Homo sapiens: one gene and its partner. The protein of the gene in region 2 purifies or fractionates together with the protein of the main gene of each other region. This does not show direct contact. Each region holds a gene or a part of one and is shown on either strand. Other genes may lie near its edges. The genes, in order: UPK1B and UPK3A.

Region 1 (3,817 bases), on a different chromosome or scaffold from region 2:
GCTCATGGCCTATTTGGGCCTGGAATTTTATCATGTATTTGTTTGGTAACATGTTTATTTTCTGTCTCCCATGCTAGAATGCAAGCTCCATGAGGGCAGGGATTTTATGTTGTTCACTGTTGAATTTCTAGAACCTAGAACAAGTGCTTGGCACATAGTAGACACGTAATAAACATTTACAGAATGAATGGAACATTAATGTTTACAATAGTATAATTTGCAACACACTTGATGGTTCACAAAACACTCCCATATCTGCTACTCCTTGGTCCTCCCAACAATCCTGGGAGGTGGTCGTTCATCTAATAATATATATATAAGGGCCCACTTATGCCAGGTGCCAAGTACTGGCTGGGCATTTAGCTGTGGCAAACAGAAATGGGCCTTGCCTTCATGAAGCTCACAGACAGAAGCCCCATTTTTTTCACCATCATTTAGTGCCTTTTCGTGATGCTAGTCAATTTAGTGGTACTTTACTTGATCTTCCTTCATTTTATTATAACATTTTTGAGGTATAGTGATCACAATTTGCACATAGCATTTCTGAGTCACATAAACCATAACATAGAATATATATATATTTGCATCTGACATGCTGTGTGAAATTCTAGTTAATTTCTACTATTAACAAGCTTATAGTGACTTCCCTAATTTTGTTAGTCTTCACAGCTATAGCAGCACATTTGTGCATTGTAGATCCTGAAAACCTACAATATGGTTGTCAAAAAGTGAAGCCTGGGCAACACAGTGAGACCTCATCTCTACAAAAAATAAAATTAGCCAGGCCTGGTGGTACATGCCTGTAGTTAGTTGGGAGGCTGAGGTGGAAAGGAGGATCACTCGAGCCCAGGAGCTTGAGGCTGCAATAAGCTGTGATTGCAGCATGGCACTCCAGCTTGGGTGACAGAGTGAGACCCTGTCTCTCAAACAAAACAAAACAAAAACCAGGCTGGGCACGGTGGCTCACTCCTTTAATCCCAGCACTTTGGGAGGCTGAGGTGGGTGGATCACAAGGTCAAGAGATCGAGACCATCCTGGCCAACATGGTGAAACCCCATCTCTACTAAAAATACAAAAATTAGCTGGGTGTGGTTGCGTGCACCTGTAGTCCCAGCTACTTGGGAGGCTGAGGCAGGAGAATCACTTGAACCTGGGAGGTGGAGGTTGCAGTGAGCCGAGATAGCGCCACTGCACTCCAGCCTGGCGACAGAGTGAGACAGGCTCCATCTCAAAAAAAAAAAAAAAAAAAGAAAAAGAAAAACCATTCACTATTCACTTCTTTATTCACCCATCTATCAAACGTCGGTGCTTGCTTTGTGCCAGGCATTATGCTAAGTACTAAAAATATCAAATCTGTAGAATCAAATAATACATAGTCCTCAAGGAGACTCAGAAAAAATAGACTTGGGAACAAATATAGTTCCAGGTAGTGAATGCAATAATAGAAATAAAGTATACCAGGTCTTGGGGTAGCACCTTTTTCTTGGTGGAAAAGGATGGCAAGAGGGGACTTAGCAAGACCTATGAGTCAGGGAGAATGGTGGTGTGTGGGAATCTGGGAGGCTGGGCTAGGGAGAATCAGAAAGGACTAATAGATAAGAGATTATGTCAAAGGAGCAGAATGAGTGAGGTTGAGAAACAAGGAGCACAGGAAGTCAGGAACAGAGAGAGGAATTTCAGAATTCAGGAATTTGGTGGAGGAGTAGGGCTGAGTGATGATGAATTTGTAGTTGGTAGGTAGTGGAGGTGGAGTTGTTAGAACAGATAAAGCCAGGGAACTGTAGGGTAGTGGAGGTGGAATTGTTAGAACAGATGAGGCCAGGGAACTGTAAGGGAACGTGTTAGAAGCATTGTCAAAATGGGTGTGGAGGTCCCAAGGTAGAGGAAAATAGTTCATTTGTATCTTTTCCTCAATTTCTCATCTATCTAAACTTGAGAAAAGCTTCAGGTTTGTCCTCATAACTAAAATATTATATGTGCTAGGAAAAAAGGTATAACTATGAAATAAACTGGTTATCTGAAGACAAATGTCCTATTTTTATCCCTTTCAAAGAGGTAATACAGTTTGTACACAATTACAATCCAATCAAGATTTGTTTGCATGAGCAGTTCCAGTGTTGAAATATCAAAAGCCTTTTATAGTCCTGAGAATAATTATATTGTACACCTTGATTATAAGCAGCAAATTTAATTTTTAATAACAGTCTGAATATAATTGATTAAAACAATGCCAGACAATGTTGCAGTAAAGCTCAATGAGGGTTGCTCTGGACACTGCTGCAAAATAATCTAGAACACTCCCATGCCCTTTTCTGGAATAATGCATCCAGTTCTAGTCCAGGCACCCTGTCAGCAACAGTGCCATGTCCCTCAATCTGAACATGCAGTTTGTACTGCTCCCAAACAAAACAGCCTGACATTTCTCAATTATTTAATGAGCTGGTACACAACTAGCTTTCCTTAAAGAGGTAACTCCCTGAGCAGAGCACAGCGTTTCAGTGTACAGGGTCAGCAGATGCTGACTACAAGTACCTGGAGGTTCTCATCAGGGCTTTTGGGGAATATTAACAAGTCTTCACTGGCTTAGAGTCTGTGCTTGAAGGCAGAAAACTCATGTTTCAAAAGCCAGAGAGTTTTTTGAAAAGACGGACATTTACTAGTTGTGTGACCTCAGCAAGGTATTTATTAGTATCTCTACGTCTAAGTTCTTCGTTTGTAAAACAGGGATCCTACTGGCACCTACTACTGAGCATTAAAGGAGATAGTGTATGTGTGGCACTGGAAACAGTGTTTGGCATTTAGTAAGTACACAATAAATGTTAGTTTTCATGATCGTAATCACATTATCCTCATCAGCCTGGAAACTTTTTCAAAAACTATCTGTATGTAAACTACCTTCCATCCAAATCACCAACCTAATGTTTATTAAGACTGTCCTACTTTACCATTGAATAAGGAATGTGGATGTGTAATTACTACATTTATCCTCAGCAATAGTCATTGCTTTGGAATTGGCAAAACATTCTTTTTGCACATCATCCCTTCCAATTTACATTTTGCAAAACTAGAGCAAAACTTTGTTTAATGTAAATATTTCTTGACATACCAATTCCATACATTGTGCAAATTGTCTTCATTTAAACAAAGTTGGGTTCTGCTATTGCAATTCTCATGTTTTGTTAATTTTATTAAAATGTAAATTTGCCCCTATCAGTCCTGGTTTAGCATTTGCAGTTTATTAACAGAGAAGGAAATAGTTAACATGAGGTTTAGGGAAAAGAATGTAGAATTCCTTACTGAAAGACTATTTCCTACAGTTGACCAATATTTTTCTCATAAAGAGCAGCAGAACCTCCTGGGAAGTCTTGGGAGGAGAGAGGACTCACCTGATTGTGATAAAAACCAGGCACGCCTAGTTTACAAGCCTCCAGGTTGAGAGGTTCTTTAAGATTGTTCATAACACAGCATTGACGAGGCCAGGGATAGTCAGCATCATTATTCTCAGTCCGGAAGGCAGATGTGTATTTTTGCCAGTCTGATGGACCATTTACGCCACAGCAATTGTCCTGTCAGCAGATGAGAGATACAAAATTCTCTTTCGTGGTCCCTACTAGAGCCATCAATGTAGCAACTGAAATTTTATAGAGAAAGAAGATACGGAAAGTGTACCATATCTTACATTTACTAAGAAATCCCCAAATGACAGCTGAAGGTATTGATAACTTACAACTTACATTTTACAGTTTGTAAAAGAATTTTTACACTTCCTACTTTACTAGTCATTAGTGAACCCTGTAGCCATTGACATGTTACTTAA
Region 2 (3,817 bases):
CAACTCACACACACTGCCACACTCTCACACACCACACACTACACATACCAACTCCCACACACACACAGTCACACTCAGACACCACACACCAACTCAAACTCTTACACACGCACACACACTGCCACACTCTAACACACCACACAACACACATTCCAACTCACACACACACTCTCACACTCACACACCACACACATCACACAACTCAAACTCACACACACACCTGCCACACTCTCACACCACACACACCACACACATACAATACACACTCTCACACCACCCACACACCACACACACATACACCACCCACACCACTCTCACACACACCAGACATACTCTCACGCTAACCACACACACCACACACACCCTCATTCACACACACCCCCACCACACACCACATACACCACCCACACCACACACACTCTCACACTCACACACCACACATACTCTCACACTAACCACACACACCCTCATATTCACACACACAACCCCACCACACACCACATATACCAGCAGTCCCCAGCCTTTTTGGCACCAGGGATCGGTTTTGTGGAAGACAGGTTTTCTGCAGACGGGAGTGGGCTGGGGGTGGTTTCGGGATGATTCAAGCACCTTATATGCAGTTATTGTGCACCTTATTTCTATATTATTACTTTGCCATATATAATAAAATGATTGTACAACTCATCATCATGTAGAATCAGTGGGAGCCCTGAGCTTGTTTTCCTGCAAGTAGACGGTCCCATCTGGGGTGATGGGAGACAGTGACACATCATCGGGCATGAGATTCTCGTGAGGAGCATGCAACCTAATCCCTGGCATGCGCAGTTCACAACAGGGTTCGCGCTCCCGTGACACTCTAATGCCACTGCTGATCTGACAGGAGGCGGAGCTCAGGCAGTAATGCGAGCTACAGGGAGCGGCTGCAAATGCAGATGAAGTTTCACTCGCCCACTGCTCACCTCCTGCTGCGCGGTCCCGTTCCTAACAGGCCATGGACTGGTACTGGTCCATGGCCCAGGGGTTGGGGACCCCTGATATACACCACACACTGTCACACTCATCCACACCACACTCCTCACATACTCTCCACACACCACATACCACACACATTCTCACACTCACACACCACTCACACACATACGCAACACCGTAAACTACATTATACAGTTACCACACGCCACACGCAACACAAACACACACACATAGACATACCACAACAGGCACGGGCACTCACATACTCACACACAAGGCTTTCTACCACCCACTCGCGTGTGACTTCAGGCAACCTTTCAGAGCCCCCCACGCCCCTGGGGGTGCACATGGGCTCAACAGGAGGCTCTGCAGGTGAAATGCACAGGACCCTGACACTCATCCTGCCAGACAGCCTCGTCTTGGGGGCCAAGGTGTGGCGGGAGGAGGTCTTAAGTTAGGATATCATTTGCCCAAAATTACCATCAAAGACCCTGGCGTGGCCCCTGTCATTCAGCAGACTCGACTCTGTATATGAACTTTGGGTCTCTGCTGAGCAAGGAACAGCGCAGCACCCTGGCGTTCCACCTCAGGAAAGCCGCCCAGGTGCTAAGGAGTAGGTGTGCAGGGAAGGAGAGCGGTTCCTTGCTGCCTTTGCCATCTTGGTTTTAGGCCTTGGAAACATCTTACCTGGCCATAGGGTGCTTGCTGCTATGAGGATTTAGCAAAGGGGCTGGTTAGGACGTAAATGCCGGGTCAGCTCCGCGTGCCTTTGAGGCCAACCCACTGTAAGGGCTGGAGAGACGGAGGAATGGGCCGGCTTTGATCCGCTTACACCCATCCCCAGCCCAAATGCCACCAAGGCCTGCACCTTGATCTGTTCCCACACCTGGCCCTCAAGGATGGAAAGGAGGAAGGAGGAAGTTCCAGGTTCAACGACTTTTTTTTTTTTTTTGAGACAGAGTCTCACTCTGTCACCAGGCTGGAGTGCTGTGGCGTGATCTCGGCTCACTGCAACCTCTGACTCCCCAGTTCAAGCGATTCTCCTCCCTCAGCCTCCCAAGTAGCTGGGATTACAGGCACGTGCCACCACGCCCAGCTAATTTTTTTTTTCTTTTTTTTTTTTTTTTGAGACGGAGTCTCACTCTGTCGCCCAGGCTGGAATGCAGTGGTGTCATCTTGGCTCACTGCAAGCTCCACCTCCCGGGTTCACGCTATTCTCCCGCCTTAGCCTCCCGAGTAGCTGGGACTAAAGGCACCCCCACCACGCCTGGCTACTTTTGTTTTTGTATTTTTAGGAGAGACGGGGTTTCACCGTGTGAGCCAGGATGGTCTCGATCTCCTGACCTCGTGATCCACCTGCCTCAGCCTCCCAAAGGCTGGGATTACAGATGTGAGCCACCACACCTGGCCTGGCTCAACAGCTTTAAGGAGCATTTTACTCATCACTGCCTGGCCTGGGAGGCTTTCACAGGGACAGAGGAGCCTTGGTTCTCACCGCCGTGGCTGGCCCCGCCTTCTCGGGTCCCCTTGAGCATCACCACCACCACTGCCCACCACTTACGCTGGTTGGTGCGGATGGGGTCTGACCACAGGGTCTGGTCCTCTACCAAGCCCGTGGACATATTGACCAGGACATACTTGAACCTGGAAGGAGACGGAGCCAGGGTGACTTTTATGCTTCCTGTGAGCCCCACCCACAGGGAGGCGGTGGGGGGATGTAGGATGGCCTAGGGGTGGGAGACGGCAGCGGGGGCCCTTCCAGGAGACGGAAATGTAGACGGCTACTGAGCGGGCTCTGGGCAACAGGACAGTGCTGAGCTTGGCCAATAGGACCCCCCCCAGGACCCCTCCCTGGATCAGCTGCCACCTCCTGCATCCATGAAGCCTTCAGAATCAGAAGCTGCCCTTCTAGGCGCTCCCTCTTAGAGCTCCCCTCCATTTCTTTCCTCCATGTAACACACGTGGCATAGTTGCTGAGCACTAATGCATCTGTCTTCCTTGCATTTCTGCCTTCCGTGACTCCAAGCCTGCTCCTTGGCATCACAAAGAAAACTGAAAAAGAAAAAGGCTGAAGCTGGGCATGGTGGCTCACGCCTGTAATCCCAACAGTTTGGGAGGCTGAGGCGGGCAGATCACCTGAGGTCAGGGGCTCGAGACCAGCCTGGCCAACATGGCAAAACCCTGTCTCTACTAAAAATACAAAAATGGGCCGGGCGCAGTGCCTGACGCCTGTAATCCCAGCACTTTGGGAGGCTGAGGCGGGCGGATCATGAGGTCAGGAGATCGAGACCATTCTGGCTGACACAGTGAAACCCCGTCTCTACTAAAAATACAAAAACAAAAGTAGCCAGGCGTGGTGGGGGCGCCTGTAGTCCCAGCTACTCAGGAGGCTGAGGCAGGAGAATCGCTTGAACCCGGGAGGCAGAGGTTGTGGTGAGCCGAGATTGCACCACTGCACTCCACCTTGGGCAACAAGAGCGAAACTCCATCTCAAAAAAAAAAAAGCAGAAGTTGAGGCTGCAGATGGCAAGGCTTTGGTAGGGTTTCTGTTCATGCTGGGCCCCAGCTTTCCACTGGGTGACCTTCCCTCTCTGGCACAGTTTCCTTTCCTGTAAGACGAAGGGGTTTGGGTGGGTGACTTCCACACACGTAGATGGGCCAGGACCAGCTGCATAATCTGTGGGCCCCAGAGCAAAATGAAAATGTGGGCCCTTGTTCAACAATTAAGAATTTCAAGATGGGCCAGGCATGGCAGCTCACGCCCGTAACCCAATACTATGGAGGAGGCCAAAGCAGGCTGATCACTGGAGGTCAGGAGTTCGAGACCAGCTTGACCAACATGATG

The links.
Region 1: the proteins of UPK3A (region 2) and UPK1B purify together in Homo sapiens (affinity purification with western blotting, with the first as the bait; one study listed by BioGRID). This does not show direct contact.

Annotation. Positions count from the first base shown.
Region 1 is NC_000003.12:119,193,968-119,197,784, reverse strand, and holds part of UPK1B (uroplakin-1b), read right to left. Parts: intron 3,567-3,817; coding exon 3,387-3,566; intron 1-3,386. UniProt on the Homo sapiens protein: Component of the asymmetric unit membrane (AUM); a highly specialized biomembrane elaborated by terminally differentiated urothelial cells.
Region 2 is NC_000022.11:45,287,860-45,291,676, reverse strand, and holds part of UPK3A (uroplakin-3a isoform 1 precursor), read right to left. Parts: intron 2,617-3,817; coding exon 2,534-2,616; intron 1-2,533. UniProt on the Homo sapiens protein: Component of the asymmetric unit membrane (AUM); a highly specialized biomembrane elaborated by terminally differentiated urothelial cells. May play an important role in AUM-cytoskeleton interaction in terminally differentiated urothelial cells.